Regions from separate parts of the Homo sapiens genome. Here region 2 is linked to region 1. The links come from fine-mapping of genetic effects on gene expression. A gene starts in region 1. The other region holds a variant in brackets. All regions are shown on one strand. Distances are from middle to middle. Region 1 holds the start of ALDH1A1 (aldehyde dehydrogenase 1 family member A1). Region 2 overlaps LOC105376082 (a long non-coding RNA gene).

Region 1 (5,395 bases):
GAACAGATTTATATAGAAGATGCACGAGAAATCAAAATTCACTGACTTGTTTGGAGTATTTTTACCCAGAAAAGTTCTTAAACACAGAGCAAAACGCCTGCTCTTTGAGTCTTGCCTTCTTTTGGACACTTAGGTCAGTCACTTTCCCTAGAGGGGAGTTGTTGCACAGTGACTTCGAAGTGAATAGGTTTCAATCTCAAAATCATCTCTCTGTGTTAAGGGTTCATTAGGTCTGTGCTTGTATGTTAGATTTTTAGGACCATCTCATTTGTCTAGTACCGCTTCTTACATGCTTAGTTAATGACTACTAAGTGAAGCTTAATTTAGCAGGAAGGTTATTTACATTAGAGCTTCCTTGAAATACACACACAAGGAAGACTTTGCAAACTTCTGCAAAGCCAAAGGAGTGGGGAGACAGGGGCATCCAGACTACCAAAATATCTTCCTAGGTAGTATTATTAAAAAAAAAATCCCATTAATAATAGTAATACAATAATCTGAGCATTGTCGACAATTTTGAGCTTCATGAAATGTATTTTTAAATGTACCCACTTTCAATTGAAATTTCTTGTGAATGACAAACTTGGAATAAGAAAATGAGGGAGACTGGACTCTTGCAACCTTTTGGACATACCTTTGCCAAATGTAAATTGTTTGACGGTATGGATTTACTGCATTTTTCATGCTACCATTTGTAGTAAAACTAAATGGAAAAAATCTTTCCTCTTTAACAAAACCTCGTGATAACAATACCTTAAAATACACTTCATAGCTGCTGGTCAACCATGTTAAAGGCACAATCTGATCTCTGCTGCTACTTTCCTGAGGAAAAGAGCCAATCAGCTGAGCAACTTCCTCATTTGTTGTGCTTTATGAAAATGAAAATGCAACAGACCTTGGGATTTCAAAGCCATCCATGGTTACAAGTGAGGAAATAAATATATAACAGTGGGGACTTTTACTTTATCATTAAATTATAATGCCCTTTGTTTTTCTGTTGGCTAATTCAGACAGCAAAATGGCTCTCTCTTGATTTGCAAGAGTTAATTTCTTACCATACTTTCTGCATCACACCATAAAGATAACTTCAAGTAATTTTGGTTAGATTGTGTTTTATTCATTTGTTTGTTTTGGAGTTCTAGGATCTGACAGGAAAGCAGTGTGAAACAGGCAAAGTTCAGAGTTACTCTCAGAACGACTCAAGCAGGATCCATTTCCTAGTTCCCCCCAGCTGCGGATTTTAAAGTCTGGATCTAGCTCCTGCTCTTGTTTCTCTAAATATTTATCAGTTAACAATTACACATCTGCTCCAATGGCAACAAACTTGGCTGAAGAAATAATGCTTTTCTTCCTCCCACCAAAATATGCAAAATAATGCAAGTCCATCTGAAGATTTTCGAATCCAATTATCAGACTTAAGTCCCCCTATTTTAACACTCATTTTATTAAACATATTGGAAAGTTATGTTATTTCAGTATGCTCTCTTTCTCCTTGTTTGCTTTCTATTGTTCCTACTCGTTTGGTTCTTTCCAGTAAGCTTCTCTAGTGAGTATTTTGCTCTCTTATCATACATGCCGGCTATAGTGAAGTTAATAGAAGTGCTTAGTAAAGTCCTCTGAATCCTGGTATAAGAATCCTTTCACACAGAAGAGAATTCCTTTCGCTTGGAAATATTTTAAGAAATAAATTTATGAAAGATTGTCTGATATGATTTAGATCATATTTGATCAGGACACTAAACTGAGACCTGCATTTTGCATGCCTTTTATTTTTATATTTGCAAAGGGCTCTTTACACAAGTTTACTTAAATTGACCTTTAATGCTTTACATAAATGCAGTTTTTGCAAACCCGAGTCAAAGCAGAAAATAGAAGTTTTACTCACCTTAGTATATTGAATCTTCAAATCGGTGAGTAGGACAGGTAAGTCTGGCGTGCCTGAGGATGACATTTCTGATTCGGCTCCTGGAACACAGGTGACTGGCTCAGCAATTTGGTTCTGATAGAGCACTTGGCTTTATTTGTTCCTTTTTTATCTGCACGGGCTAAAGTTTATTTGCATACTCGGATACGATTGGATGAACAAACTCAGAGCAAAAAAAGAAAACGACACTACTTATTTGTAACACCTAGGGCAGGAAGCCTTTGACTTTAAACTTAAATCCTTAAGAAACCAGTGCTCCAGCATCGAATTTGTACCTGGAGACAGTGCACTATTTGCAGATGAATTAATTTACAAAGCCGAAACCTGTGATAAGTGTATGCAGCAGCTGCTCTGGCCACTAAGGCCAGTTATTATTTTTTTGACTTCTCATGCTTTTTAATGCTACTATGTAACTTTCTGTTCTCTGACAGACTTGGAATCAGAGAATTTGAGGATTGAAAAGAGTCTAAAAGGGCACTTGTTCTCAGTAGAAGCTGGCCAGGTGTCTTCAGGACAAGGCTTTCAGGAAATCAGTCCATCTCCCAGAAAATCAAGGTGCTGTTTGGGGAAGAAAGGCCCTTTATCTACACCCTACCCTAAGTTAGTTTTAAAATATCGTATCAGTCTTGTGTATTTTCAGTGCTGGGTAAGTAGACCTACTGTGATCTCAGAAGCCCTAAATTATCTTTATTTTCTATATGTGAACAGAAAAGCCAGCAGGACTTTTAGGGAATTCGGAACACACTGTCACACACAATCACCACAATTAGAAATATGGCAATATCATCTATTAATACTCATTTAAAATGAAAGTAATCCTGGTTTTGGAAGTTGTCTGTATTTATCAACATAGGCAGTGTACAAAGACTAAATTTAAGCAGGGCTTCCAAACAATTCAAGTTCTTAAATTAATATTTAGCTGAAGGACAATTTTTTAAACAGTGTTACTCCCATTTTAAGTACAATACTTTATTGTATTGTAGCTCTAGCAAACGTTACAATAGGAACAAGATAAAATACTCTGGATGCTCTGATTGTGGAGAATCAACCAATTTTTTTTTTTCTAGTGAAACTTGCCAATTCCCCTGAATATGGGACTTACATAGGGAAACTAAAAATTTCTGAATTGTTTGCCCAAATCAGGTGCAGCACTTGTTTCCCTTTCTACCCTCATTTCATATCCCCATTTTAGAGACATACAGAGGGTGAGTAGCTTACTTATGGTCACAGATCTATTAGTGCAGGACCAGAATTTCATTTCAGGCCAGTCTGACTCCCAAACCTGGACTCTTATTTCTGTTTACTATTTCTACCCTATTCTCCACAAGAGAACTCCTACATGGGTTCAAGCATCAACTGCTTTGGTTTTCTCAGTGAATAGTCACCCTTACAGGCATTTAAACATAACTTTTTATTCATCTAAGACAAGAATTTGCAAAACTTTTTCTGTAAATATTTTCAGCCTCTGGGCTGGATGGTTTCTGATATAATTTACTTGACTCTATTTAAAAGAAACTGTAGATGATAGGTAAATTAATGGGTGTAGTTGTTTTCCTATAGAACTTTATTTAAAAAGACAGAAGGCAGGCCAGATTTGGTGCACGGGCCAACTCCCTAGATTCTAAGGCAATATCATTCCCAATGCCTTTGACTCCCCCGTGTCTTATGTTTGATGACCAGATAGAAACTTCTGTGTTCTTTCAACATTTCTCTGTTTCTTTCTTTTTGGAAAGTCTAATTGTTTTCTCTCTCAAAAATGTGTTTTGAGTTAAATGCACAATTACACAACAGCTGTTACATAACTTGAGAGTGGCGCTCTGGCCATGCCCAAACAGCTGTGTTTTGCTGCTTTCTTCTCCCAGAGTCACAGTTGTTTGTGGATTCAAATACTGGTTTATTTGATGTCCAGGCGATGAAAGCTCAAGGCTTCATAACATACTTGGCTTGTCATCTCACTTCTTATATGATCATTCTCAATTGTATTTTATTGGATAATTATGTAAGAACAGTCCCTTTATACCAGGCATTCCTGAATGTAGGCAAAAGGAGTTGCTTTGGAGACAGGTTACCACACCTGCCCATTTAATTTCAGCAAATATTTACTAAGTATCATTTATGCATCCATAATTCTTTAGCCCTAACCTCACTTAAGCAGATCTTTTCTGCCTAGAAACCACAGGGCCTGAGACCTATATTTTTGAGGTAAACATCATCCTGCCCTGAGAGCTTATTTTGTAGAATAGCATATTTCTGGGAATTGCTGCATATGAGGAAAAGATTTCATCAGACTACTTCTATTCCTTACAGAGGAAATAATGGCTTTTGTGAGAACCTAGGGACCAAGGTTGCACATTTTAGAACTGGACCCAGGATTGTACGTTTTTATGGTATGCCAGGACTATGCAGCAGAGGAGGAGCTGTCCCTTTAACTTGAGAGTAATCGACAAATGATGTTTCATCTTCTTTTTCCTCCTTATGAACAAACTAAATCACACACACACACACACACAGGCACACACACATATGGAGAGAGAAGCAAGAAACATAAGAGGATAGTTTATTCATCTCTTGAATTTGACTTCTCCAGCCATTTGTGAAAGCTTTCATTATACCAAGAAACATATAGATTATGACTTCAACCATTCTTGAAACTACTCTTTCATTTTACAACAAACATCTCCAGAACTCCGTCCAATCCTCAGTTCCTGAAAAGATAAAAGGAACCTAATCTGCCACCCAGGACTTAAAATTTTTAAAAAAATGTTGAAAAAAGTCATATGATGAATTAAAAATAGCTTCTGCAATGGACTGAATTTTTTTTGTCCAGTCACAATGGATATGTTGAAATCCTAACCCCCCATGTGATGGTATTAGGAGATGGAGCCTTTGGGAGGTGTATTAGTCCATTCCCATGCTACTAATAAAGACATACTTGAGACTGGGTAATTTATAAAGGAAAGAGGTTTAATTGACTCACAGTTCAGCATGGCTGGGGAGGCCTTAGGAAACTTACAATCACAGTGGAAGGGGAAGCAAACACGTCCTTCTTCACATGGTGGCAGCAAGGAGAAGTGCTCAGCAAAAGGGGGAAAACCCCCTTATAAAACCATCAGATCTCATGAGAATTCACTTATTATCATGAGAACAGGATGACGGTAACCCCCCTCCATGATTAAAGTACATCCCACCGGATCCCTCCCATGACATGTGGGGATTATGGGAACTACAATTCAAGGTGAGATTTGGGTGGGAACACAGAGCCAAATCATATTAGGAGGTAATGAGGTTATGAGGGTAGGACCCTCATGAATGGATCAGTGCTTTTATAAAAGGGACTCCAGAGAGATCTCTCGCTGTTTCTGCCATGTGTGGATGCAATGAGACATTGGCAATCTGTAACCCAAAAGAGGGCTCTCACCAGAACCCAACTATGTTGGCACCCTAATTTCAGACTTCAAGCTTCCAGAACTG
Region 2 (5,395 bases), 300 kb after region 1:
CATTGACCAAACTTTGGCATGAAATTATACTTTTAAACCCATAAGAAAATTCACAAAGCTGATATTCTTAAAACTTTATCTATTTAGCTTCAAATTAGAATTTTTAAAACATCTTATTAGGTAGCTCTTTTGTAGTATTCCTATGAGAAGAATTAATCCTGTAAAATATGTCAAACTCTAGGAGTTAGCAAGGGATAGAAGAATATGCTGAATTGCAGGTGAGTTAGAACTTTGATCAATAAATTATGTGAAGCAGAAATTTTATTGTGAAAAGTTGTAATAATACAAAAACCCACAATATTTTATTTAAAAATTAGGGCATGCAGAGTGTAAATAATTTGCTTTGTTGTGGAATTCAGTGTGTGCTGAATCAATAGGGTGATTACTCCAAAGTTGACTATTGAATACATGTAAATAACAGTTACTAACATTTGTATTATTAAGAAGTTTACATTATCATTGTATAACCATCATCATATTTTATCGTACAGACTTTTCATAATATTCAGGTGAGATACAGTAATCGTTATCTACTCATTTTGAGAAAGTTGGAACTGAGGAGCAGAAAAGTTTAAATAACTTGGCTACGGACACCTAAGTTCTCCAATCAGAACTTGGTCTCAAGTCACCTGGACTTCAAATCTTCCCTCCACTCCTTCTTGGTTAGTCTTTTAGCATGATCTTGCACTGTGAACTCTGAAGACAGAAAACAGTTAACTCAGAGTGAATGTGAATATCTACCTCTGGGGTCAGTTTAACTGCTAGTGTGGTATTTTTTCGTTTTGCTCTTGTTCCCTGCACTGTAATTTTTGTGTCCTGCTTCTCTCTCATCCCCTTTCTCTCTTACGCATTTCCTTTTCCTTTGGCTTTTTGTGATAATGTTATATACTTGCTAGAGTGAACAGATTTATTTCCATCATTGCAGTGTGATAATTAAAATATTTTAAACAAGAAATTAACCTCACCATTGCCTGCACTTTTTAAAAGTATTTTTTTCTGATTAAAGCAGGAAATTCAGGCACAAAAGGAGAGGATACTCATGCTTGTCATCTTCACATTTCAGGTATTTGGGTGTTATTGCTCCAAGGGGTGTTCCTGCTGAAAGACACAGAATGTATATGTCACCTCTATCCATCAGGTCAAAAGATCTTGCCAACAACAATATTCACATTAATGCCCAGTTGGTCTCCCTGTTTACAAGAGGCGTTCTTGTGAAAGGCCCTACTTTTTAGATTAAATATTTCCTGTGCCAAAACATTCTGCATCAGTGAGTTAAAACAGACTATAGTCCAAAAGGATATATCCTGGCTGTGAGCACAGATTTGGTATAATTTGAGTTTTTTCTTGTTTTATTTTTAAAACAAAATATATCGGGCTTATGATTATTAGAGAAACTCAGATTTAAGGCTCAGGAAAATGTAAATGACAGCTAAAGATAATTCCAAAATCTTCTCTGTTTTCTCCAATACCTTGACTAATAGATTGTCTCATAAAACTTTATTTTTCTTTTCTTTTAGTCTCCAAAGGTCTATTTTTCTGCAGAAAGCTAATGAATCCTGACAGAGTTTCTGAAAAGCTAAACATATATTTTTTGTGCAAATTAGAAAATTTGGCACAAAGCCATACATTTCCAGTTTCACAGGGTAGAGCTGTGCATTAAAACCAGCAGGCTCGGTGTGGTGGCAGGCTCACACCTGTAATCCCAGCACTTTGGGAGGCCGAGGTGGGCAGATCCCTTGAGCCCAGGAGTTTGAGACCAGCCTGGGCAACATGGTGAAACCCCATCTCTAGAGAAGACACAAAAAATTTGCCGGGTGTGGTGGCATGTGCCTGTAGATCCAGCTACTCTAGAGGCTGAGGTGGGAGGATTACTCGAGCCCAGGAGGAGGAGGTTGCAATGAGATGGCACCACTGCACTAGGCCTGGGCAACAAAGCAAACAAACATCTCAACAAGCAAACTAACAAAAAACTCAAACCACCAGCTCCCTTTTTACAAAACGATGTGTGTGTGTGTGTGTGTGTGTCTGTGTGTGTGTAAACTCCTTGTTTAGTAGTTGTGATGAAGTAGAGAGGGAATTGCAAACATCTGACAAATAGGTTTCATTGAGGTACATCTTTGTATATATTATCTCATCTAAATCTCAAAACAACCTATTTAGTTTGGAATTTTTGTTTCTATTATACTGACAAAGAAGATAAGGCACAGAGAGGTAAAACAATTTGTCTAAAGAAACATACTCAGTAAATGATTTAATCCCATCTTAGTTGACTGAAAAACCAAAAACTCTCCATCCTAACTTCCTGCTTTCCTGGGAAACACTTTATAAGCCCAGGAGGCAGTTATTCTTTTTACTCCTCACAAGAACGATGTAGAACAAATGAATTTTGACTCTTAAACTATAGCATATATGTAGCATTTAAAAATTCATTTCTTGAGC[T/A]TCAAAGCAATCACAAGGCTAAAAATTTATAGTGGCAGCTGACATTTCCTTGTAACGGACATGATAATAAATATTTTTAGGGCCATATAAGTTTGTATTACATACTCTTGCTTGCTTTTGTTTATTTGTTTTTATTTCACAACCCTTTATTAAAATAAAAAAATTCTTAGCTGAGTGACCATACAAAAACAGCCCTTAGACAATATTTGGCCCACAGTCATAGTTTGATGACCCTTGCTCTGTATCTTGATTTTGATGGTGTTTATATGACTACAGAAGTTTGTCAAATTCCAAAATTTTACACTTAAAATTGTAAATTTCAAGGAACATAAATTACCTTTTAATGAAATAAATGGGGGACCATCATAAACAGTATGTTCTTTCACCACAAACATAGAAATTTTAAGTAGCCTTACATCTATTGATTAAATAGAATTTGTAATTAAATAAATTCCCATAAAAATATTCATATCCAAAGTAGCTCATCAGAAATTTTATCAAACATTTAATAAACTAAAATTGCCAATATCACACAAACTCTTTCATGGAATAGTGGAATGAAGATACTTTCCAAGTCATTTCATGAGGCCAATATAACTCTGACACCAAATCTAGGAAAGGATATTATATGCAAAGAAAATTAAAGACTAATATTCATTGTGAGCATAGACACAAAAGCCCATAACCAAACATTGTCAAATTGGATTTGGCAATATCTAGAGATGTTAAATAATCCTGACCATGTGGCAGTGGCAATCCCAGGAATGGCAAGTTGGTTTATTATATGGAAATCACAGTGGAACTCACACATTAACACATTAAAGAAGAAAAATTATATTTAATTAAGTAGATTCTGGAAAAGCACTTAAAAATTCAGCACCTGTTCATAATAAAAACGCTCCACAAACTGGGGACAAAAGAGAACTTTTTTCTTCTAGGCAAATAAAGTCTGTGAGAAATCAACATTAAATATATTTTACTCATGAAGAAGGAATGAGCATTATATCCCAAAATAAGGAAAAGATAAAGATGTGCATTTCTACCACTTCTAGTCAACATTGTACTGGAGCTCTTAATGTAGTAAGTAAAAAAAAAAAAAAAAAGGCATACATTTAGAAAAGAATAAATAATAAAATCTCTATTTGAAGATAATATAACATATGCCTAGAAAGTTATAAGGAGGGAGCTCATGTCTTTGTGGGACTCCATGTATATGTGCATAATTAAAATTGTTTTCTATTGTTTTTTGTAAAAAAAAAGTCATAAAGAATAAAAAAGTGAACTTTGCAATGTCACAGGATGCAAAGAAAATATACAAAGATAAATTGTATTTCTAACCAACAACAATAAGCAATTGGAAAGAAAATAAAAGAGATGCTATATTTATGGATTATAAGGCTCAGTATTGTTAAAGTTATTAAAATGTAAATTCGCCACAAATCTATCTTTATATTCAACACAATCCTAACCAAAATTATATTTGGCTTTAAAAAAAGGCAATTTGCTGTGTTCAAATATATATCAAAATGAAAATGTCTTAGAACAGTTGGAGGACTTACCCTACCTGACTGCCATACATACTATACAGCTATGGAAATCAAGAGTATGACACTAGCAATATGATAGATGAATAGATCAATTGAAAACAATTGTGGATCCTGATATAGACTCACACATACAAAGTCAAATTATTTTTTGTCATGGGCTCTAAAACAATTCAACAGAAAAAGGGAAACAACTTTAGCAAATGGTGATGAATCAAGTAGATAGGAATAAAGAAAATATAGAACCTCAACCTCAATTTGACTCATACACTAAAAAAAACATCTCATATACATGAGGTATATGATATCTAAACCTAAAGGAAAGTTTAAAATATTCGAGAAAAAAATCTTCATGGGCTTAGAGTGGTAATAATATATTAGCCTTGAACAGAAAGCCCAAATAATAAAAAAAAAGCACTTTATCAAAAGCAAAATACTTTGTTCTTCAAAAAATCACCAGTAAGACTGTTTTAAAAAGCAAGTCATAGATTATGAGAAAATATTTGATATACTTATACCTGACAGAGGATGTGTAACCAGCATATAAAAAGAACTCTTAAAACTCAATAATATAAACACAGGCATCCCAACATAAAAAATAAAAATTGAGATTCTATATCTTGAGAAAATATCCTTCAGAAATGAAGGAGAAATCAACACATTCCTAGATGAAGGAAACATAAGAAAATATGTTGCCAGGAGATTTACCCTACAGGAATGGCTAAATAAAATTTCTAAAAGTATAGGAAATAACAAAAGAATAAAGCTTGTGACATCAGGAAGAAAGACCAATACAGTAAACAAAAAATATGGGTAAATACAATAGGCTCTTCTCTTGAGTGTTCTAAATTATGCTTGATGGTTGAAGCAAAAATTAAAACACCAATGTTGTTCTAAATATTTGTAGAAGAAATATCTAAGACAATTATAAATGGGGGAGAATAAAGAGATGTAAAGGGAAGTAATCTTTCTATACTTCACTAGGACTGGTAAAATGAGAACACGAGTAGACTGTGGTAAGTTACAGATATGTAACAACATAATAACTAGTGCAACCACTAAGACAGCTATACAAAGAGACACAGTCAAAACACTATAGATAAAGAAAAGGGAAATTGTAAAAAATGTTTTATATGATGATTTATATGTTTTATATGTGTTGTGGGTTTCCACAGAAAGGGAGGAAAAAGAAGACATAAATGAAAAGCAGAGAGAACAAACAGAAAACAAAAATAAAATAGCTGATTTAACTCTAAGGTATCAGTAATTATATTAAATTTAAATGGTATAAACATAGCAATCAAAAGACAGAGATTAACAGAGGGTATTTACAAATACAACCTAACTAAATGTTGCCCATAAGAAATTAACTTGAAATACAACAATATAAGCTGTTGAAAGTAAAAGGATTG

What was found. PIP is the estimated chance that this variant, and not a neighbour inherited with it, causes the effect. A credible set is the group of variants that fine-mapping cannot tell apart.
Region 2: its variant is the best candidate, but not a certain one, in a credible set for the expression of ALDH1A1 in whole blood (TOPMed, PIP 0.61).

Annotation. Positions count from the first base shown.
Region 1 is chr9:72,951,050-72,956,444 of GRCh38, forward strand. It overlaps ALDH1A1 (aldehyde dehydrogenase 1 family member A1), which reads right to left and starts at 2,004. Exons shown (of 13, transcript NM_000689.5): 1 at 1,886-2,004. The coding sequence starts at 1,951.
Region 2 is chr9:73,246,712-73,252,106 of GRCh38, forward strand. LOC105376082 (a long non-coding RNA gene) reads right to left here. Exons shown (of 5, transcript XR_929931.2): 2 at 966-1,098. Among named protein-coding and RNA genes, the nearest start is that of ANXA1, 98 kb to the left of the region's middle. The variant T/A (reference allele first, on the strand shown) is at 2,440.